4 separate regions of the Homo sapiens genome follow, and regions 2, 3 and 4 are each linked to region 1. The links come from fine-mapping of genetic effects on gene expression. A gene starts in region 1. Each other region holds a variant in brackets. All regions are shown on one strand. Distances are between the middles of the regions.

The links. PIP is the estimated chance that this variant, and not a neighbour inherited with it, causes the effect.
Region 2: its variant is the best candidate, but not a certain one, in a credible set for the expression of IL6 in whole blood (TOPMed, PIP 0.56).
Region 3: its variant is the best candidate, but not a certain one, in a credible set for the expression of IL6 in monocytes after LPS (Fairfax 2014, PIP 0.87).
Region 4: its variant is the best candidate, but not a certain one, in a credible set for the expression of IL6 in whole blood (INTERVAL, PIP 0.68).

What each region holds. Positions count from the first base shown.
Region 1 is chr7:22,723,689-22,729,624 of GRCh38, reverse strand. IL6 (interleukin 6) reads right to left here and starts at 2,425. Exons shown (of 5, transcript NM_000600.5): 1 at 2,344-2,425; 2 at 1,991-2,181; 3 at 819-932; 4 at 1-111. The coding sequence starts at 2,362. It overlaps IL6-AS1 (IL6 antisense RNA 1), which reads left to right and starts at 2,005. Exons shown (of 2, transcript NR_131935.1): 1 at 2,005-2,057; 2 at 2,920-4,230. RefSeq lists an enhancer at 1,776-2,975 and a silencer at 2,961-3,010.
Region 2 is chr7:22,605,097-22,611,032 of GRCh38, reverse strand. No RefSeq gene overlaps it. Among named protein-coding and RNA genes, the nearest start is that of STEAP1B-AS1, 45 kb to the right of the region's middle. The variant G/A (reference allele first, on the strand shown) is at 2,548.
Region 3 is chr7:22,704,014-22,709,949 of GRCh38, reverse strand. No RefSeq gene overlaps it. Among named protein-coding and RNA genes, the nearest start is that of IL6, 20 kb to the left of the region's middle. RefSeq lists an enhancer at 473-1,109. The variant A/T (reference allele first, on the strand shown) is at 3,005.
Region 4 is chr7:22,642,427-22,648,362 of GRCh38, reverse strand. No RefSeq gene overlaps it. Among named protein-coding and RNA genes, the nearest start is that of IL6, 82 kb to the left of the region's middle. The variant A/C (reference allele first, on the strand shown) is at 3,243.

The DNA.
Region 1 (5,936 bases):
CATCTGCACAGCTCTGGCTTGTTCCTCACTACTCTCAAATCTGTTCTGGAGGTACTCTAGGTATACCTCAAACTCCAAAAGACCAGTGATGATTTTCACCAGGCAAGTCTCCTAAGAGGAAAGATGGTGGGAAAATTGGTTATCGCCAGGAGATAGAATCAATTTGAAAAGTTAAAATTGCCACAGTTCGACATCTTTTCCCTCTGCTCCTCTAGAGAACTTCAAGTACCTCTTAGGCAGCATGTTTTGGGACATTGGACAGCACCATTTTAAATAACTGGACAATCAGAGGCCCCATGTAATTAGTTTTATCCAAAGCCCAACAGATGCTAGAATGTGGCAATGGGGATCCTTCTCTGATTGTCCCCCTTGATGTTCTTCCTGCACTCTTGCCCTTGTTAATGCTGGGCTGGAACCTCCTTTTATAAAATAATCAGAAGACAGTGCAGGTTATCTCACTGTGGAGAATGAGCTGGGCAGGGAGGGAGGGCAGACCTGGACCCTGCCAGGGGCAGCCAGAGAGGGAAAAGGCCCTGAGAGTACCTTTCCCAGGATGAACTAATTAAACCTGTGGGAGTTTTAAACATTTGACAGTTGTTAAAATCTCACCACAGTGGCACCATCTCTGGCCATACCTGTCCAAGAATAAACTGCCTTTAAAAAAGCTTGAAGTTGGCCTCCTCATGAAATTTACATAACATTCTTTACATTTACCCACTTTTTGTTGCTGCCTGGATCTATATGTATACAGGCACTGCATGCAAGAGGGAGAAGTTTTGCCTAAGGAATAGTGAAAAGTGAGTGCGACAAGTTGGTACCTCATTGAATCCAGATTGGAAGCATCCATCTTTTTCAGCCATCTTTGGAAGGTTCAGGTTGTTTTCTGCCAGTGCCTCTTTGCTGCTTTCACACATGTTACTCTTGTTACATGTCTGGGAAAGAATACCAGAATTGTTATCACCTAAGTGTCCCTAAAACAAACACCACTAGAGGGCCTTTTCATTGTTCAACCACAGCCAGGAAAGTCTCTAAGAAAAATGAAGCTACAACTCATTGGCATCCTGGCAAGCAAATTCCAGTGGAGTGGGGGCACACTTGGGTTCAGTTCCAAGCTCACCTGTGACTTTAGGTGTGTTACTTAATCCTGAGTCTCAGTTTCCTTATCTCCAAAAACCTTCCTTGCAAATTTGTTTTGAAGATTAGACACAATATTTATTTAAAGTGCCTGGCACACAGTAGATACTTAATAACAGCAATTTTGACAATAATTAGGAGAATATAATTCAAGCCATAGAATGTTCCAGCAGGAAGGATCTATGAGATCACCTAGTCCACGCCCAATTTTACTGATGGAGTCCAGAGGTGGTAGGGAATTTACCCAAGATCACAAGGCTGGTTTGGCAGAACCAGAATTCGAGTGTGGGCTCCCAATCTCCCCTCCTGTGTTCTTTTCTTTCTACCAAACAGGACCAAAATACCTTGCATTGAAAGTGGGGAGATGCTTTAACCTATTTATGATTTGCCACTTTGGTGGGCTCTGAGGTATGAATCTTAGCTGGAATGGCTTTGAGGAATCCTAGCCATTGAGTTTACATAACCAAAAAGTACTGCAACTGCTCTGAGAAGCTGAACATGCCTTTCAGGTGGCACTTTTCTAGTCCTTCCAAAGCCCGGGGGACAAAAAGGAGCTTCACAGACCTAATTTTTTGGAAAGGGAAAAGGAAGCCCTGAGAAGCAATAACCCTCAGCTCATGCCAAAGGTGGGCATGGATTTCAGACCCATTCTGCATTTTCCAGAAAGGAAAGGAACTTCCTGACACCAGCAAAGGATAAATACAGAAGTCAGTCTAGTCGGCCCCGTTGGCCTCAAATCTACAGTGCTCTAGAACCCAGCAAAGACCTCCTAATGCAGGCAGCCCCCGGCCACACGCAGGGGCAAGGGGAACGCATGCGCACCGGGCCCTTCAACCCCATCGCCAAGCCTACCCACCTCCTTTCTCAGGGCTGAGATGCCGTCGAGGATGTACCGAATTTGTTTGTCAATTCGTTCTGAAGAGGTGAGTGGCTGTCTGTGTGGGGCGGCTACATCTTTGGAATCTTCTCCTGGGGGTACTGGGGCAGGGAAGGCAGCAGGCAACACCAGGAGCAGCCCCAGGGAGAAGGCAACTGGACCGAAGGCGCCTGTGCCGGAGGGGAGCGAGCGCAGGGGTGAGCTGACAGCACAGCTGGGAGCCTGCCTCTGCTGCTGGCCGCCCGCCAGCCCTCCCTGGGCCACACACCCCTCCCTCACACAGGGCTCGACCGCCGCTGGCAGTTCCAGGGCTAAGGATTTCCTGCACTTACTTGTGGAGAAGGAGTTCATAGCTGGGCTCCTGGAGGGGAGATAGAGCTTCTCTTTCGTTCCCGGTGGGCTCGAGGGCAGAATGAGCCTCAGACATCTCCAGTCCTATATTTATTGGGGGTTGAGACTCTAATATTGAGACTCATGGGAAAATCCCACATTTGATAAATCTTTGTTGGAGGGTGAGGGTGGGGCCAGAGCGGGTGGGGCTGATTGGAAACCTTATTAAGATTGTGCAATGTGACGTCCTTTAGCATGGCAAGACACAACTAGGGGGAAAAGTGCAGCTTAGGTCGTCATTGAGGCTAGCGCTAAGAAGCAGAACCACTCTTCCTTTACTTTCTTTTTTTCTTTTATTAGTGACTCAGCACTTTGGCATGTCTTGACAAAGAGTAAAGCTGAAGTCATGCACGAAGTTTTACAAAGAGAAAAAAAATAAGCTAAAGCTATGTTTTTTGAAAAAAAAAAAATTTTTTTTCAGTGACCAGATTAACAGGCTAGAATTTAGCGTTCCAGTTAATTTGTATTTGTAAAAACCAAAGATGTTCTGAACTGAGTTTCCTCTGACTCCATCGCAGCCCCCCAAGCCTGGGATTATGAAGAAGGTAATACTACCAGTCATCTGAGTTCTTCTGTGTTCTGGCTCTCCCTGTGAGCGGCTGTTGTAGAACTGCCTGGCCATCCTCAAATTTCGTGCAGTTACTTCAAGGCGTCTCCAGGTGGAGTGTGTGACTCCTTTTTGCCACCGCGTGGCTTCTGCCACTTTCTTCACCTGCTTCAGCCCACTTAGAGGAGGTTGGCTGCTGCCCTGCCCTCTCCCAAGTGACCCCTTGGGAATCCTCCCAGTGAGGACTTTGCTCTCTGTGCCAGAGGTTTGCCTTGTGCTGCCAGTGCTCTCCCCATTGCCACTGAGTCTCTTCACCACTGTTTCACTGGGGCACCTGCATGGGCCCCAGGTCTCCTGGAGCCCTGAAATTACTGAAGCCCACTTGGTTCAGGGCAGAAAGGGGGAGAATACTACTCACCTCTTTGTTGGGGATGTCAAAGGAGGACCTTGTGGCATCTTGCAGAGTTTGTGTTTATCGCTCCCTCTCCCTGTAAGTCTTGATTTGAAATCAAAAGAAGCTAGAAGGAAACTACGGACGCAGGCACGGCTCTAGGCTCTGAATCTGCTTCCGCGTCGGCACCCAAGAATTTCTTATTGGGTCAAGCTGGTTCAGAAGCCCTCTTCCCTCAGGATGGTGTCTCTTGCAGGAGGATCCTTGGTCTCATGCAAATGGGCTCTAGACTAGGTTGTCCCTCCAGTCTCCAGAGACCCAGACAGCTCTGAGATGGCTTCAGGCTGAAACCAGACCCTTGCACAACACCAAAACACTTATTTACCAAACATGGTGTTACCTTCACAATCGGTTTCTTTGCTTTGCTAAGAAGAGATCTCTTCAAGATCGATAAAACAGTGACCTCTGTTGGGCATTTACTCAAGTTTTGTTTCGTGCATAACATTTCAGGACCCGCCTGTTGGGGAAAGTGAGGTCATCCATTCTTCACCGATTGTCTAAACAGAGACGGTGGTCCTCTGCCGCGGTGGGATTCTTTGGTGTGAAAATGAAAATGGGGGAGGATGGCTGGATGGTTTCATTTTTAGTGCTCTCCTGTCTTAAGCAACGTAGACACTCCTGAACCAAGTTCTCTTTCCTGCATGAAACGAAGCCACTGCTCCCAGCTCCGCAGCCGTGCACTGTGATCCGTCTATGTAATGTGAGCTTGCTTTTACTCAACTATCTATTTTTTAGAAAATACAATTCAATAAATTTCAAGTACTTGAACTGAGTGACACAATACAACACACAGATTTATCTTTTCAATAAAAAGTGTTTTTTAAATAGGAAGTTCGTGTTCATGATAAAATGTTCAAATAGGACATCAGGGCATGCAGGGAAAAGTGTCTCCTTCCTCTCCTGGCCCCTTTTCCCAGAGGTAGCACCTAATTGCCTGTATTTTCAACCAAATCCTCTGTTATCCTAGCCTGGGAAAGGTTTTCTCGTCTTCCCAGCTGTTTGATCCTGGCTGTTACATCAAGGACCTGTGCCCTTGTTTATTCACCTATAAAACGGGGGTAATAATAGTTCTTCCTTTCTAGGGCTGTTGTGAAGATGGAACGTGATGCAGTGTAAAAAATTCCTGGCGCATAGTAATCCCACAATACATGCTAGCTCTTTGAACATTCCTTGGCTCAGAGTCTCTGCCTTGGAGAGCTCTTCCAGCTCGGCTATATCGGTTCACCTGGTGTCTTGCCTATGAAGGAATTATGAATGAACCAGGCCTCTGTGCCAGCAATGAGCTGGTCTCCCAATCATTTTCCCTCAAAAGAAATGAGATTCTATGTTTTGTTGAAAATGTTTTATGGCACAAAGTGCAAAATGAAAAATAATAATAATTTTCTTTTTTGAGAACATTAAGATCCCCAAACCAGGTCTCTTGTTTTAGATAATTAGTCCAGCTTGCGTCTTGCTCCTACTAGACTTTTTCCAAGCCCTCCACTAAGTGTTTTTATGTCAGAATTCCACAGCCTTCCCTGTGCATGGTGATTGCCATTAATTCAAACTCCTGATAGTGGCCCTCGAGGGTGAAGGGGCCTGATGCTTCTGGGGTCAAGAAAGGGCAAACTGTGGGAAGGCATGTGTGTAGGGAGCTTGGAGACACTGTCTGCCCCCTGCACATCGCAGCATGGCACTTTATTAGTATCAATGCTTTGGGCTGGAATTTGCTTGTGGGAGAGATGAGCTCTACCTTGCTCCAAAAACGTTAATGTAACTGACATGTGCAATTCCACAATGATAGCTTCCTTCCTTTGCATCTCAATGGATTTTTCGCGTGGAGAGCTCATTCTTTGTTTTTTCTTGTTTTGTTTTGTTTTTTCTCTTGAGAAGGAGTCTTGCTCTGTTGCCCAGGCTGGAGGGCAATGGCATGATCTTGGCTCACTTCAACCGCCGCCTCCCAGGTTCAAGCAATTCTCTTGCCTCAGCCTCCTGAGTAGCTGGGACTACAGATGCATGCGACCACGCCCAGCTACTTTTTGTATTTTTAGTAGAAACGGGGTTTTGCCATGTTGGCCAGGCGGGTCTTGAACTCCTGACCTCAGGTGATCCACGCGCCTCGGCCTCCCAAAGTGCTGGGTTTACAGGCGTGAACCACTGTGCCCAGCCCCTTGTATTTTTTAAAGGGCAGCTTTAGGTCATAGCAAAATGGAGAGGAAGGTACAGAGATTTCCCATATATCCCCCTCTCCCCCCAACTCTCCCCCGTATTTTAGTATGAATACGTGACCAGAAAAGGCTGTGCTGTCAGCATTTATTAACTAATACTTTAGTTGCTGGATTGCATCATAGCTGATGTGAAGTGAGCGCCAGCTGAGATCAAGAGAGGCCAGACAAATGGGAGTGCACAGGGAGGAAGCAGCAACTTGGCTTCCTATGCCACCAGTGTGGGGCTGGCATGTCCTATCTGGATCTCCCAGAATTACTGCCCATGACTGCTTTCTTACGTGATGGTGGAGTCCAGTTCAGAATCTAGTAATACATTTGAGACCAAGGGGG
Region 2 (5,936 bases), 120 kb after region 1:
AACATTGGCTATTGCTTATGATGATGGGAGAGTTTGAGGCAATCTGAGTGTTCAGTATCAAGTGGGAAGACTTTGTGGTGGACACAGAAGCTAGAAGGAATAGGTTAGATGTCCACATAGCAACAAGGATGGGTCTTATTAACACAGACCTGTGTTCATTACACAATTATTTCAATGAGGAAGATGGAGTTCAGGTTTGAGTATTTCAGACTCACAATACAATTTAATTTCTTTATAAGATTTTAATAATTTATTCCTTCCTCCTTTCCTCCCTTCTTCTCTTCAATCATTTAGTTAGTATTTTTTGATTGCCAGGCACTATGCTGAGCTCCAAGGATTCTGTAAAGAATGGCATAGGTGTTTTTACTCCTCTCATGGAGCAGCAGGACAGGCAATAACAGATAATTATATAAATAAATACATAGTTATGCATGATGATGAATTCCTTGAAGGAAAATTACAAATTGCTAAATTACAGAGAGGTGGACAATGGTAGGCCTCTTTAAGGAAGTGACAGTTAGCTGAGACCTAAAGAATGGGATTTCCCCAGAATAAGCAGGAGAAGAATGTGTCACTCAGCAGGAATAGCACAACAAACTTCAAAGGAAAAGGGCCCAGTGTCCATGAGAAACTGAAAGGAAGCTGATATAGGTGCGCATATGAGGGAACGGGGCTGGGATGCAAGATTGTGCTGGAGAAACATGCAGAGACGCCCTCTAAGTCTTGTTACTAATCTAAGATGTTAACCAAAAAACAATTGGTATCTGTTGAAGTGTTTTGAGCTGGGGAATAAAATGATTTGACAATATAAGATTATGTCTTTGCCATAAGGAGAAAGGATTGGAATAGGAACAAAAATGGATGCAGGAAAAACCATTAGGAGGTTTCCCAGGAGTTCAGGAGAGAAGCGACTTGGACAAGGTGGATGGTAGTGGAGATGGAGAGAAGTTGGATGGATTTGAGAGATATTCCAGTGGTAGAATAAACAGAACTTTGTGTTATATTGGCTATGATGGTGAGAGTGGTGGAATCAAGGCTAACTCCTAGATTTCTGGCTTGAACAATTAGGTAAATGTTGGTATCATTTACTGAATGGGACAGGCTAGAGGAAGACCACGTTTTCAAGAAAGGATATAGAGTTCCATTTTGGACATGTTAAGATTCCTGTATAGTTGTGTGCAGTTGGGTCTAGAGCTGAAAGAGCAATCAAGGTTATATAAATAAATGTGGGAGTGATGTATATAAAGAATGGAAAACATATTTAAAGTCATTAGAATACATGAGTTAGCTAAGAAGGAGAGTATATAGTGGGAAGAGAAGGGGCCCCAGGGTGGAGCCCTGAGGGGATCCAGTGTTAGAAAAGGAAAAGCCAGGGCAAGACACCATGGCTCATGCCTGTGATCCCAACATTTAGGAGACTGAGGTGGGAGGATTACTTGAGCCAAGGAGTTTGAGGCCAGCTTAGGCAAGATGGCAAGACCCCATCTCTACAAAACAATAAAAAATTAGCCAACCACAGTGGTGCATTCCTGTAGTCCCAGCCACTTGGGAGGCTGAGGCTAGAGGATTGCTTGAGCCCCAGAGGTCAAGGCTGCAGTGAGCAGCCTTGCAAAGTGAGACCCCATCTCTAAAAAAAAAGAAAGAAAAGAAAAGAAAAGAAAAGGAAGAGCCAGGAAAGGACAGCACGAAGGAGAGTCCAGGAGAAAACCTAGAAGTGTGGTGCCATGAAAGTCAAGAGAAAAGAGTATTTTGTGAAGAAAGTGATTGCTGTGTTGAATGGTGCTGAGATATTGAGTAAACTAAGACTGGAGAAGGTTCAATGGAATTGGCAAGATGGAGATCATTAGTGACCTTGAGAAGAAGTTTGGGAGATAGTAGATGTAGTAGATGTGGGAGAAGTCAGCTTACAGTTGGATTAGTTGTGAATGGGAGATGAAAAGTGGAGGTAGCATATGTACACAAGTCTTTCAGCAAGTATGACTGTGAAGGAATATAAGGAAACAAGTTAGCATATGGAGGGGACTGTATTGGACACCTCTTGTATGTTACTTTAAATCCTGTTGGCTCTGCTCTTAGCCTAGCCACTGCCTTGCTAAGTTCTGAGCTCCTGCAGGCTTAACTTGGCCATGCCTTGCTTTGAGCCCTTTCCTCTCACATACTACTCTAGGGCTTCTTTGTTTTGTGGCTGGGAACATGTGAGGGAACCTTTTCAGCACTCATGCTTGTGCAACCCAGAAACCAGGGGAGTTGACAACCAAGGGATGACCCTTGACTACAGGGCAATAAAAGCTGATAGATAAATGCTGTCCTCTTTTCTCTCTTTGGTGGACAGTTTTTAAGACCCATTGCATAAGTTTGCTCAGAAGGTCCCATGGGATTGGTGCCTGTAAAGGTGATTTAAAAAAAGGCATCTGTGTATTGGCTTCACTTCATTCTTTACTTTGCCCCTCTTTTTCCCACCTTGGGATCACTTCTAGATAAACCACCTGCGTGCATTCAAGTGTTTGACTCATACTAGAACATGATAGAAAAGACCCAGTAGAAAAG[G/A]AAAAGATGGAAACACAAAAGAGGTAAAGGATAACTAATGGAGCAACACCTTTGGGAAGGTGAGAGTAAATGGGATCCAGAGTCCTGTGGACAGGAGAGCAGATGAAGATGAATTTGGGGCAGGTCTGTTTGTTTGTAGTTTGGGGGTTGTATAGATGAGAGAGTTTCTGTATTAGAATTTAACTGGAGAAGCAATTGAATATATATCTGCTACTGAATATCTGTATTCTATATATAGAGAGAGATTTATTGCAAGGAATTGGCTTGTGTGATTGTGGGAAACCTCCAAAATTCACAGGGCAGGCTGTGAGGAAGAGCAGGCTGTGAGGAAGAGGGCTGGAACTCTCAGGCATAAAATGAAATGTCCACAGGCAGAATTTCTTCTTCATCAGAAACACCTCTGTTCTGTTATTGAAGCCTTCCATCCAGCTGATGGGACCTGGCCCACCTGAATAATCTAGGATAATCTTCCTTACTACAGGTCAACTGATTATGCATTTTAATCACACCTACTAAATCACGCCTTCACAGCAACACCTAGATTAGTGTTTCATTGAATAACTGGGGACTGTAACCTAGTCAAGTTGACACATCAAAAAACAATCACACTATTTTCACCCCTAGAGCTGGAATATCTAATAAAAAATTTTGTAATAATAGAAATGCTTTATATCTGCATTGTCCAGTACAACAGCCACATGTGGCTATTGAACATGGTCAGTGGTTGGTGCAACTGAGGGACTGAAGTTTGGATTTTATTTAATTTAAATTAATTTAAATGTAAATAGCCATGTGTATCTAGTGGCTACCGTATTGGGCAGCACAGTTCGAGAGTATAAGGCAGGGTCATCAGTTGAGAATATTATTGCTAGTTAAAAAGAATACGTTGAAAAAAATAAATTGATTTATCAAAACTAATGAAAAAGAACATAATATGTTCTCATTTGTTTTTCAACTTGCACAGCAGGAATCTCTTAGTCACAGCTAACATCTTTGATGCTGATCCTGCAATTTGCCTGTGTCATAGTTTACAAACATGAACAGTAATCATGAGATTGTGATTCTAGCTGAGCAGGCTATACCACGCAACCGTAGGTGTGTATTCCAGCACGAAGCAAGCAATGGTCTGTTTCCCAGAGGCACAGGCCCTCTTCCAGATGGCAACCCATTATAAACAACAGCGCATGTACTGCATCACGTACTCCAATTAATAGCCTGCATTACATCTCATCAGCACTATGAAAACACATGTGATAGGAAACTTGTCCTTTCTATGACAAAGAAAAACTCAGTGATTTCTTAAAAATAGAAAACATATGAGGCATGTTGCCTCAACACACTGCAATGAGACTTAAATTAGCAATGACAATAAAACTACTCATAACACTTGGAAGTGTAAAAACATTATTCTAAATAATTCTTGGGTCTAAAGGAACTCAGAACTGAAATTAAGATTTATTTAGGTAAACTGATGGTAAGACTACTATATATTAAAAAGCGGGTACAGACAAAGGCATGTTAAAATAGTTCCCTCAGATGACTTTAAAATACCTTTTTAGAAAACAGGAGAATAAAATAAACATAGTTACATATTCAACTCTAGAAGCTAGAAGAAGAGGATCAAAATTAGGCTGGGTGTGGTGGCTCATGCCTGTAATCCCAGCACTTTGGGAGGCTGAGGCAGGCAGATCACTTGAAGTCAGGAGTTCAAGACCACCCGGGCCAACATGGTGAAATCCTGTCTCAACTAAAAATACAAAAATTAGTTGGGCATGATGGCACATGCCTGTAATCCCAGCTACTCGGGAGGCTGAGGCAGGAGAATCACTTGAACCTGGGAGGTTGAGGTTGCAGTGAGCCGAGATTGTGCCACTGCACTCCAGCCTGGGTGACAGAGCAAGACTCTGTCTCCAAAAAAACAAACAAAAAGATAAAATTAACTCAAAGAAATAGAACATAGTAATAAAGACAGAAAGAAAACTGAAGTGTAGAATTGATAAATAAAAGCTAGAGTAAAAGCTAGTGTTTATCCTTTATAAAATATACATGTCTGGGAATTTGTACATTAAAAAAAGTATAATACATTTTAGGAGTGAGGAAGTATAAATAAGGAAATATAAAAACATTTCTATGATTATACATAAGAGCCAGTATTTATTGAGAGCTTTCTATGTTTTGGGTACTACTGTTAGATGAATGTGTGGTTAAATAAACTATCCATGCAGTAGAACACTGTGCAAACATCAAATGGAAAGAGGTAAATCTACATAAACAACACTGAAAGTTGTCCACGACATACGAGCAAGTGAGACAGGCAGGTTACAAAATTGAATGCACATATGATCTCATTTAAAAAAAAATATCTATTTGTATTTCTATTAATATCTACATTTTAAAAATCTAGAATAGTCTAGGGATTGGGACTGAGTCAGAGAAGAGAACTTTTTTACTTTATCCATTTCTGCCTTGTTTAATCTTGTTTTACAATGTGCATGAATTACTTTTAATAAATGCATGATATTTCAAAGTAGCTATGACTTGAAATGTTCCCAACACAGAGATGATAAATACTCAAGGGATGGACACCCCCAAAACTGATTTGATCCACGTAACAAAATATCACATGTACCCCATAAATATGTAAAATATTATATGTCAGTTTTTAAAAAGGCAAAAAATAAGTACATGGATGATAGTTTTAATGCCACTAAGTATGTTAAACATGGTTATCAGTTTCCAGGAGACTGCTGTTTGGAGAACATTATTTCACTTAGGGAGTGCTCAAAGCAAGGCCACTCTGACAGTTTTGATTCTGTTCCATACACTTCTCACTCATTCTTAAAGAGGACATGCTTTGTCGTGTGCATGGCATATTTTGTGGTGTGCTCTTCAAGCACGGTCACGAACTAATGAATCTTGATAATGGCACATGTCACAAGGAATGGAAACTTGAGGTGAATTTCAGAATGCTTGAAGGGGTAAAGTTGAGATATGCAAGGACTGCAGGCTCTTGAGGGCTGTATCGGTGAAGTCCCAGTTGATCAAGACCTTTTGGTATCTGTACCAAAAGAGGGACTGAGGCTGTGGCTATCTTTGTCCAGTAGGGCACAGGCACTGGAAGAGGCAGCTTCAGAGCTACTCCATTGCAAAGCATCAGCCAGCCTGGCTTCGCACCCAGACCAGTTTTATAACTTAGCATGTTTTTATTTTTCTTTATACTTTCTTCATGTCTGACTATCTCTTGCTTCTGGCACAGCCATTGTATTCATACATTTCTATTGAGAATTTTTAAAGGTGTTCTGATAATGACTTGCAATTCTCCCCGGCTGTTAGTGGCAACTTTTGAAGTTACCAGCGAGCTGTTCTTCCAAGGTTGGGGACGAAGTTTG
Region 3 (5,936 bases), 20 kb after region 1:
TTTGCTCTAACTGATAGGTTATCTTTCTTCTTATAAGTCCTTCCTTTTGGGCAGCAGGGAAGTCCAGCCTTGCTCGCTAATGGGAGCCCAGTCCCTTCTGCTTTACTGTCTCCTTTCGCTTCGACACAGCTCCTTTCGAGGAAATGCTGCATCTTTCAGCGCTCCGCTCCTCCACCTTCTCTTTCCAAAGCTGGCACTTTGGGGAAGTTATCTGGACACTTACTGATACCTGTGGTGGAACGCAGATCACACTGTCCTGTGGTCAGCCTGGTGGCATCTGCTCTTACTTTCTTCAGTGAGTGGCCTTGAGGCCTGTACTCTGTCAGCCTGCTCTGACTGGGTCCACCTGTGATTCCCCGGGTGGGGGCAGGCCTGGGAGCTCTCAGCAAGGTTGGGTCAATCTCACTCCCCCATGCCCTTTGCCTGGAGACCTCCTTTGTAAACTGATCAGCGAGCACTACCAGACCTCTTTTGTGCCTCTCCCCAGGGAACAAAGGAACTTGTGCACACTCCCATGCCACCAGGTAGCTTAAAGTGTCCTCAGCCCCTAAATCCAGGCCCTTTTCCTGCCTTATCACACCTCAGAGGATTTCTCCTCCTGATGCAATGGCCGGGCACTATGAGGGGCAGTATCTTTCATGCGCGTCCGTGTGAAGAGACCACTAAACAGGCTTTGTGTGAGCAACAAGGCTGTTTATTTCACGTGGGTGCAGGCAGGCTGAGTCTGAAAAGAGAGTCAGCAAAGGGAGATGGGGGTGGGGCCATTTTATAGGATCTGGGTAGGTAAAGGAAAATTACAGTCAAAGGGGTTGTTCTCTGTCGGGCAGGAGTGGGGGTCACGAGGTGCTCAGTAGGGGAGCTTTTGAGCCAGGATGAGCCAGGAGAAGGAATTTCACAAGATAATGTCATCAGTTAAGGCAGGAACAGGCCATTTTCACTTCTTTTGTGGTGGAATGTCATCAGTTAAGGCAGGAACCGGCCATCTGGATGTGTACGTTCAGGTCACAGGGGATATGACGGCTTAGCTTGGGCTCAGAGGCCTGACATTCCTGTCTTCTTATATTAATAAGAAAAATAAGACGAAATAGTGATAAAGTGTTAGGGCGGCGAAAATTTTTGGGGGTAGTATGGAGAGATAATGGGCTGCTTCGAGCGGGATTGGGGCGGTGTGGGAACCTACAGTGGGAGAGATTAAGCTGAAGGCAGATCTTGTGGTAAGGGGTGATATTGTGGGGTTGTTAGAAGAAACATTTGTCATTTAGAATTATTGGTGATGGCCTGGATACAGTTTTGTATGAATTGAAAAACTAAATGGAATAAGAGAAGGAGAAAAACAGGTATTAAAGGTCTAAGAATTGGGAGGACCTAGGACATTTGACTAGAGAGTGCCTAAGGAGATTCAGCATAGTCCTGCCAGCAAAGATTATTTATTTACTTTAAGAGTTAAGAGTGGCAGTTTGGGGATAGCATCAGGAGATATCAGCTGTGATGACTTGGAGAAACAGTATAAACCGGCAGTGTAAACAAGAGCAGGGCATGTATGAGTAGTTGAGAACGGTGAATAGGAGTATGACTAGACAGAAAATAGTAGGGATGACAAGTTTTTTGGGGCACAGTCTAAGTTGGTCTGGTGTCTGGGATGAGACTGGGGCCTAATAAAAAGGAGCGTCCGTACAGGAGCTCAAATGGGCTGTACCCTGTAGCATTCTGAGGACAGGCCTGAATTCTGAGAAGGGAAAGTGGTAAAATTATTGTCCACTCCTTTTTAAGTTGGTGGCTGAGCTTGGTGAGGTGTGTTTTTAAAAGACCTTTAGTCCGTTCTACTTTTCCTGAAGACTGAGGACCAACCGTAAGGGATATAAAGGTTTCACTGAATACTAAGAGCCTGAAAAACTCCTTGGCTGATTTGACTAATAAAGGCTAGTCTGTTATCAGACTGTATAGAGGTGGGAAGGCTAAACTGAGAAATTATGTCTGACAGAAGGGAAGAAATGACTGCAGTGGCCTTCTCAGACCCTGTAGGAAAGGTCTCTACCTATCCAGTGAAAGTGTCTACCTAGACTAAGAGGTATTTTAGTTTTCTGACTTGGGCATGTTGAGTAAAGTCAATTTGCCAGTCCAGGGTGGGGGCAAATCCTCCAGCTTGATGTGTAGGGAAGGGAGGGGGCCTGAATAATCCTTGAGGAGTAGTAGAATAGCAGATGGAACACTGAGAAGTTATTTCCTTGAGGGTAGATTTTTACGATGGAAAGGAAATGAGAGGTTCTAAGGGGTGGGCTAGTGGCTTGTGCTGTAGCATAGCCTGCCTTTGCTGGTGTGTGGCGATTAGGCCTGGTGGAACTGCCATCAATAAATCAAGTGTGATCAGGGTGAGGAACAGGAAAGAAGGAAATATGGGGAAATGGGGTTGAATGTCTGGTGGATAAGAGAGGTACAGTCATGGTGGTCAGGTGTGGTATCAGGAATAATGTGGGAGGCCGGATTGAAGTCTGGGCCAGGAACAAGGGTAATTGTGGGAGACTTAACAAAGAGTGAGTCCAGCTGAAGGAGCCGGGGAGCAGAAAGTATATGTGTCAGGTGTGAGGAGGAAAATAGATTTTGGAAGTTATGAGAACTGTAGAGAGTGAGTTGAGCATAGTTTGTGATTTTAAGGGCCTCTAAAGTATTAGGGCAGCAGTAGCCACTGCACAGAGACATGATGACCAGCCTAAAACAGTAAGGTCAAGTTGTTTGGACAAAAAGGCTACAGGACATGATCCCGGTCCTTGTGTAAGAATTCCGACTGCACAGCCCTGCACTTCGGCTGTGTGTAATGAAAAGGGTTGGGATGAGTCAGGGAGAGCTAGGGTGGGGGCAGTCTCTAAAGCTGTCTTCAAGGAATGGAAAGAGGAGTGGGGAAAGGATTTAGGATCTATGGGGTCAGCTAGGTTTCCTTTTGTGAGTTTATATAATGGTTTTGTTAGGATGGCAAAACCAGGTATCCAGAGGCGAAAGTATCCAACCA[A/T]GCCCAGGAAGGAAAGGAGTTGTTGTTTTGTAGAAGGGGTTAGGGTTTGAGAGATCAGTTGGACATGATCGGCAGGGAGAGCACGTGTGTTTTTATGAAGAATTATGCCAAGGTAGGTAATGGATGGACAATAAATTTGAGCTTTGGAGGGGGATACCTGATATCCTTTGGAGAATAAATGCTGAAGGAGCAGAAGTGTGTCTTGTTGAGAAGATTCAAAGGAGGGGCTACAAAGAAGAAGATCCTCAATATATTGAATAAGGTGAGAAGCGGAGGGGTGGAAAGAAAGTAAATCATGAGAAAGAGCTTGGCTGAAGTAATGAGGGCTGTCCCTGAAACCTTGCGGCAACACAGCCCAGGTAAGCTGCTGGGACTGATGGGTGTCAGCGTCAGTCCAGGTGAAAGCAAAGAGAGGCTGGGACGAGGGGTGCAGGGGGATAGTGAAAAAAGCATTTTTAAGATCAAGAATGGAATAGTGAGTTGTGGAGGAAGGTATTGAGGACAAAAGAGTGTACGGGTTGGGCACCACAGGGTGGATAGGCAAAACAATTTGGTTGATAAGGCACAGATCCTGAACTAATCTGTAAGACTTGTCCGGTTTTTGGACAGGTAAAATGGGGGAATTGTAAGGAGAGTTTATAGGTTTTAGAAGCCTATGCTGTAGCAGGTGAGTGATAACAGGCTTTAATCCTTTTAAAGCGTGCTGTGGGATGGGATATTGGCGTTGAGCGGGGTAAGGGTAATTAGGTTTTAATGGGATGGTAATGGGCATGTGATCCGTTGCCAGGGAAGGAGTAGAGATGTCCTATACTTGTGGGTTAAGGTTGGGGGATATGAGAGGAAGACGCAAAGGAGGCTTTGGGTTGGGGATAAGGGCGGCAATGAGATGTGGCTGTAGTCCAGGAATAGTCAGGGAAGCAGATAATTTGCTTAAAATATCTCGGCCTAATAAGGGAACTGGGCAGGTGGGAATAACTAAAAAAGAATGCATAAAAGAGTGTTGTCCAAGTTGGCACTAGAGTGGGGGAGTTTTCAGGGGTTTTGAAGCTTGGCCATCAATACCCACAACAGTTATGGAGGCAAGGGAAACAGGCCCTTGAAAAGAAGGTAATGTGGAGTGGGTAGCCTCCGTATTGATTAAGAAGGGGACGGACTTACCCTCCACTGTGAGAGTTACCTAGAGTGTCTGTGATGGTCCTGTAGGCTTCTGAGGTGATTGGGCAGTGTCAGTCTTCAGCTGCTAAGCCGAGAAGATCTGGGAAGGAGTCAGTCAGAGAGCCTTGGGCCAGAGTTCCAGGGGCTCTGGAAGTGGCTGCCAGGTGAGTTGAACAGTCCGATTTTCTTGGGGGTCCCGCACAGATGGGACACGGCTTAGGAGGAATCCTGGGCTGTGGGCATTCCTTGGCGCAGTGGCCAGATTTCCAGCACTTGTAGCAAGCTCCTGGGGGAGGAGGTTCTGGAGGAACGCCTGGCTGCTGTGGTTCAGGTATTTGGAAGTTCTTGTGTGCTGGAGATGTGGCTGGGGTTTGTCTCACAGTGGAGGCAAGGAATTGCAACTTTTTTCTATTTTTGTACACCTTGAAGGTGAGGTTAATTAAGTCCTGTTGTGGGGTTTGAGGGCCGGAATTTAATTTTTGGAGATTTATTTAAAGTCGGGAGTGGATTGGGTAATAAAATGTGTGTTGAGAATAAGACGGCCTTTTGACCTTTTAGGGTCTAGGGCTGTAAAGTGTCTCAGGGTTGCTGCCAAATGAGCCATGAACTGGGCTGGGTTTTTCATATTTCATGAAAAAGAGCCTAAATGCTCTCTTATTTGGGATAAAGAAAAGGAGCATTAACCTTGACTATGCCTTTAGCTCCAGCTACTTTTTAAGAGGAAATTGCTGGGCAGGTGGGGGAGGGCTAGTCATGGAACGAAACTGTAAGCCAGACTGGGTGTGAGGAGGGGAGGTGATAAAAGGATTATAGGGTGGAGGAGCAGAGGCTGAGGAAGAATTGGGACCTAGCTGGGCCTGGCATGGAGGAGAGAGGTCAGATGGGTCTGTAGAAAAGGAAGATTAGAAAGACTCGGCGACACTTGGGGTTGGGACTGAGGGGACAGGCGGGAAGGAAAGAGGGAAGATTTGGGACGAGTTGCATTGGGAACACAGACTAGGGAGGACTGATGTGTAAAAGAATGCCTGGACGTCAGGCACCTCAGACCACTTGCCCATTTTATGACAAGAATTATTTAGATCTTGTAAGATGGAAAAAATGAAAGTGCTGTTTTCTGGCTGTTTGGAACCACTATCGAGTTTGTATTGGGGTCAAGCGGCATTGTAGAAGAAAATAAGGCCTTTAGGTTTTAGGTCAGGTGTGAGTTGAAGAGGTTTTAGGTTTTTAAGAACACAGGCTAAGGGAGAAGAAGGGGGAATGGAGGGTGGAAGTTTGCCCATAGTGAAGGAGGCAAGCCTAGAGAAAAGAGAGAGTAGAGACACGGAGGGAAGGGGTTCGGGGGTTCTTACCCTCCAGAAAAGTGGGAAAGGGGTCGGGGTGTGGAAATAAAGGGTTGGGGCACAGAGATAAGGGGTCAGGGTGTGGAGATAAGGGGTCAGGGCGTGGAAATAAGGGATCGGGGGGTTCTTGCCCCCTAGAAAAGCGGCACTTGCCACTCAGGGTGAAGGAGAAGGGGTTGGGGGGTTCTTGCCCCCCAGAAAAGCGGTACTTGCTGCTAAGGGTGAAGGACCAAGGCAGTCGTCCCTGCGTGGTTGGACACCTCTGAAACGTGGGTGAATAATCAGGCAGGCGTCCTCGCGTGATAAACATCAAGGGAAGACTGTCTTCCCGAGTCCGTGACAGGCACCAGAGTTTTGGGTCCACAGATAAAATGCGTCTCCTGTCTCTACCAGAAAAGGAAAGGAACTGAAATTAAGAGAAGGGAGAGATTGAAGGG
Region 4 (5,936 bases), 81 kb after region 1:
TGGCCTCCAGAACTGTGAGAGAATGAATTTCTATTTTTTAAGACACCAATTTTGTGGCACTTTATTAAGGTAGCCCTAGGAAATGAATACATAGTTTGGTGACTAGAAATGAGGTGCTACTGTAACAAATACCTAAAACTGTGGAAGTGACTGTGGAATTAGGTAATGTGCAATTACCCAAAGCTGGAAGAATTTTGAGGCAGAGGATAGAAAACTTCTGGATTCTGGTAAGGGCTCAGAAGGAAGTAGGGTACATGGTAGACAAAGCTTCTATTGTCTAAGAGAATACAAATATTGCTGTAAACAGAATGTTGCTAGAAGGAAATGAAGAATGTGTTACTGAAAGCTGAAGGAAAGGTCATCTTTTATATACGGGCAGAAAAGTTGGCTGAATCATGTTTTCTTTGTTGTATGGAAAGCCTAATTTGTAAGCAATAGCTTGAATATTTCTGAGTAGAAATAAAAGCAGACTTCCGAGAAAAGTATTAAAGATGCAGGCTGGTTTTTCCTTGCTGCCTATAGTCAAATAAATACAAGCAAAAAGATAAGATAAGAAAGGAACTGTTAGATAAAAATGAACAAGCACTTTTATTTTGGAAGTTATCAGTCTACCCAGATTGCAAAGGATGCTAAAGTTAGGAAATTCTGTTAGGAAGCGTGTTCTAGAGAGAAGATCAAGGATGTGGCTGGACAACCTTTTGCTGAAGAGATAAAGCATGACTCATGGATACACTCAACCACCTCACCAGAAGCCAAAAATAGAAATGAGTTACTCATGGGAAATCTGTGGAGAACCCTTTTGTCTAATGGCATGAATCCCTGGACCCCCACAGGAGAACCACAAGGGTTTTGAGAATGTTGTATCTGCAGACTGCCAGCTTGAACTTTTAAAAGGATAGAAGCAGGATGAAATGTGAGAACACTATCAGACTTCCAAACTTCTACAGACAGAAAGTGGGCCAGTAGAGCTAGTCAGCTGTAAATATTTGCTACCATTTAAGAAAATGAAAGAATGATCCTGAGGCCACTGTAGGTCCAAAGGATAGACCACTGTGGACTCAGAGGATAGGGCTACCACAAACCCAAAAGGCAGAACGGCCATGGGCCCCAAGGGTGTGTTGAGTGACAGAGGATTATTCTCAAGGCTTGAGACCTAATGAAATTTGCCCTGCTCAGTTTTGACTCCTTTGGGATTGGTGACCTCTTTATTCCTTCCATTTAATATTTTTTGGAATGGAAATGTCTATCCTATGCCTAGCCCACCTTTGTATTTTAGATACTTGTATTTAGATAACTTGTTTCCTAGTTTCATAGGTCCAGAGATGGAGAGGAATTTTGCCCAGGATAGACCATACAGATTTCAGCAACACCTGATTTAGATGATGCAATTTGTAACTTTTTGAGTTGGTGATGTTTAGATTAGATTTGGAACTTAAAGTTGATGCTGGAATGGGTTAAAACTTTTGGAAATGTTGGCCTGGGGCCATGCTGCTGCTGTGCCCTGCCTTCTGTGGCCCAAGCCACCACTGCACTTCATCCTCTCACCAGAGCCCATGCCACTGGGGAACACCCCAGAGTTTTCTGGGGCCCATCTCTGCTGCTGCTCTGAATACTCATACCCCAGAACCCAGTGCTGCTGCAACTGCCTGCAGGCCATACCAGACCTGGCACCAAGAAGGATCCCCTCGGTTAGGACTTCTTTCCCTAGAGGAAAAAGAGCTAACAGGGAGATCCCAGAAGTCTTTGCCGCCAAGGATCCCAACAGCCTTTGCTGCTGCTGCCATAACTTCAGATATCTGTAGCCTTGGCTGTCTAGGACTCCTAGAGTTGTCCCCAGTGCTGACCTCAATGATAGAGCTGCATGAAGAGTACACCACAGCACACTCTCTGAAACCAGAGCTGCTGTACCCCACCCAACTGGCGTTCCCACACCTTCCTGGAGGTGAAAGTATTTCCCCCACTGAGGCTAATCTGTAATGTCTGGAATAGGTGACTGCTCCCTCAAGTGTGCAGATATCAATGCAAAGCCACAGGAAATACAAAAAGTCAAGGAAACATGACACTACCAAAGGAGCACAATAATTTTCTTATAACTGACCCCAAATAAATGGAGGTCTATGAATTGCTTGAAAATGAATTCAAAATAATTATTTTAAAAAAGGTCAGTGGGATACAAGAGAACACAGGTAGATAACTCCACAAAATCAGGAACATAATGTGTGAACAAAACTAGAAATTCAACAAAGAGATAGAAATCATGAAAAGAACCAAAAAGAAATCTTGGAGCTAAAGAATACAATGAATGAAATGAAAAATGCAGTAGAGGACTTCAACAGCAAAGTCAATCAAGCTGAAGAAAGAATCTGTGAACTTAAAGACAAGCCTTTTGAAATTATCTAGTTGGTGGAGAAAAAAGAAAGAAAAAGTAAAAAAAAAAAAAAAAGCTATGGGACTTATAAGACACCATTAAGTGCCACAATATTTGCATTACAGGGGCCTCAGAAATAGAAGAGAGAGAAAAGGGAAGAAAGCTTATTTAAGAAATAAGGCTGAAAACTTATTAAACCTTGGGAGATACAGACATTCAGATTAATGAAGCTCAAAAGTTCCCATTCTCAACCCAAGTAAGTCATGACAGAGACATATATATATATAATCAAATTGTCAGAAGTCAAAAAAAAAAAAAGAAATTCAAAAGCAGCAAGACAAAAGTGACATATCAGACACAAGAGAATCTTCATAAGGCTGTCAGCAGATTTCTCAGCAGAAACTTTACAGACTAAGAAAGAATGGGATAATATATTCAAAAGGCTGAAAGAAAAAACTGTCAATCAACAATACTTTCTCCAGAAAAGCTGACCTTCAGAAATGAAGGAGAGATAAAGACTTTCCCAGATAAACAAAAGCTGAGGGAGTTTATCACCACTAGACCTGTCTTACAAGAAATGCTAAATGGAGTTCTTCAAGCTGCAATAAAAGGACACAGTTACTAAGATGAAAATATATGAAAGCATAAAATTTGCATGTAAAGGTAAATATTATAGTATAATATTATACTATAATATTTACAGTATTTATAGTATTATAGTATAATATTTGATATTTTATGTTTGATAAATATAGCAAATTCATGATATTCTCATATGTAATGGTATGTAAGTCACTTTTAACTCTATAAAGGTTAAAAGATAAAAGTACTAAAAGTATAACTACACTATTTCATTAGTGGATACATAATATAA[A/C]AGATGTAAATTGTGACTAAAAAAAACCCATAAAATGCGGGGTCAGAGAGAGGCAAAAGTATAGTATTTGTATGCAACTGAAGTGAAGCTGTTATCAGCTTAAAACAGACTGCTATAAGATGTTTTATGTATGCCTCATGGTAACCATGAAGCAAAAATCTATAGTGTATACAAAATGATGAAGAGAACAGAATCAAACATACCACAGCAAAAAAAAAAAAAAAAAAAAAAAAAAAAAAAAAAAAAAAAAAAACCCCACAAAGGAAGACTGCAAGAGAGGACAAAACGTACAAGAAAACTACTGCATAGTCAGAAACAATTAACAAAATGGCAGGCTGGCACAGTGGCTCATGTCTATAATCCCAGCACTTTGGATGGCTGAGGCAGGAGGATCACTTGAGGCCAGGAGTTCGAGACTACCCTGAGCAACATAGCAAGACTCTGTCTCTACAAAAAATTTTAAAGAATTAGCTAGGCATGGGAGTACACACCTGTAGCCCTTGCTACTCTGGAGGCTGAGGTGGGAGGATCACTTGAGCCCAGGAGTTTCAGGAGTTCAAGGTTACAGTGAGCTATGATAGTGTGATTGTGCCACTGCACTTCAGCCTCAGTGACAGAGCAAGACTCTGTCTTTAAAAAATAAAATAAAATAAAACAATAAGTCTTTACTATCAAAAGTGACTTTAAATGGATTAAATTCTCCCATTAAAAAATAGAATGGTTGAATGAATTAAAAAGAAGACAATTATATGCTTCCTATGAGAGATTCACTTTAGCTTCGAGGATACACATAGGCTGAAAGCAGAGGGTGGAAAGAGATATTTCGTGAAAATGGTAACCAGAAGAGAGCAGGAGTGGTTATACTTATAACAGAAAAAATAGACTTTAAGTAAAAAACTGTTACAATAAAAGAAAGAAGATAATTGTTTAATGATAAAAGAATCACTTCATCAAGAAGATATAGCAATAGTAAAGATTTATTCACCCAACATTGGAGCAACTAAATATATAAAACAAACATTAACAGAACTGATAATATTAACATAAACTGATAATACCAATACACTGTCATTAGTACAACATTAACTGGTAATATTGGTATAAATCAAATATTAACAGAACTGGTAAGGAGAAATAGTACAATAATAGTAGAGGACTTTAATACCCAACTGTCAACAATGGATAGATTGTCCAGATGGAAAATCAATACGGAAACATTAGGTTTAAACAATCCTATAAACCAAATGGAATCAACAGACATATACAGCACATTCCATCCAACAGTAGCAGAATATACATTCTTCTCAAGTGTGCATGGAACATTCTCCAGGGTGGATCATATATTATGTCATAAAACAAGTCTTAATAAATTCAAGAATATTGAAATCATATCAAGTATCCTTTCCAACCATGATGGTATAAAACTAGAAGTAAATAATAGGAAAACTGGAAAACTCACAAATATGTGGAAATTAAACAATATACTTTTGAGCAATCAATGGGTCAAAAGAGAAACCAAAGGGAAATTAAAAACATTGAGACAAATTAAAATGGAAACTCAACATACCTAAACTTATTGGATGCTGCAAAAGTAGTTCTGAGGAAGACGCTTGTAACAATAAACACCTATTTTAGGAAAGAGAAAGATCTCAGAAAACAACCTAACTCTATACCTCAAGGAACTAGAAAAAGAGCAAACTAAGCTCACAGTTAGCAGAAGGAAGGAAATAACAAAGATCAGAGCAAAAAATAAATAAAATAGAGATTAGAAGAATAATAGGAAAGATCAACAAAACTAAAGTTTTTTAAAAGACAAGATCGACAAACCTACACTGACAAAAATTGACAAAATTGACAAACTAAACAATTTTAGTTTGGCAGCCAAAATAGACAAAGTTAGACTGAGAAAAAAAGAGAGAATACTCAAATGAAATCAGAAATAAAAGAGGAGACATTACAACTGATCCCACATATATGCAAAGAATCATAAGAGAATAGGATGAATAGCCAACAAATTGGGTAACCTGAAAGAAATGAATAAATCCTTAGAAACTACATCCTACCAATACTAAATCATGAATAAACAGAAAATCTGAGCAGACCAATAATGGGTAATGAGATTGAACCAATAACAAAAATCTCCCAACAATGAAAAGCCTAGAAACAAATGGATTCATGGGTGAATTCTGTCAAACATTTAAAGCAGAATTAGTATGAATTCTTCTCAACCTTTTCTAAAATACTGAAGAAGAGGGAACGCTTCCAAATTCCTTTTATGAGGCCAGTGTTACCCTGATATCAAAGCTAGACAAGGACACTAAAAGAAAAAAAACCATATACCAGTATTCCTGATAAACATAGATGCAAAAATCCTAAATAAAATACTACCAAATGGGATTCAACAGCACATTAAAAAGATCATTCACCCCAAACAAGTGGATTTATCCTTGGGATGCAAGGATGGTTCAGCTTATGCAAATCAGTAAATGTGATACACCACATTTAAGAATGAGGGATAAAAATTATATGATCATCTCAATAGATACAGAAGAAGTATTCTATAAAATCACCCTCATTTCATGATAAAAATTCTCATCAAAAAGGGTATAAAAGGAAAGTACCTCAATGTAATAAAGGCCATATAGGACAACCCCACAGCTACTATCATACTCAATGGTGAAAAGTTGAAAGCTT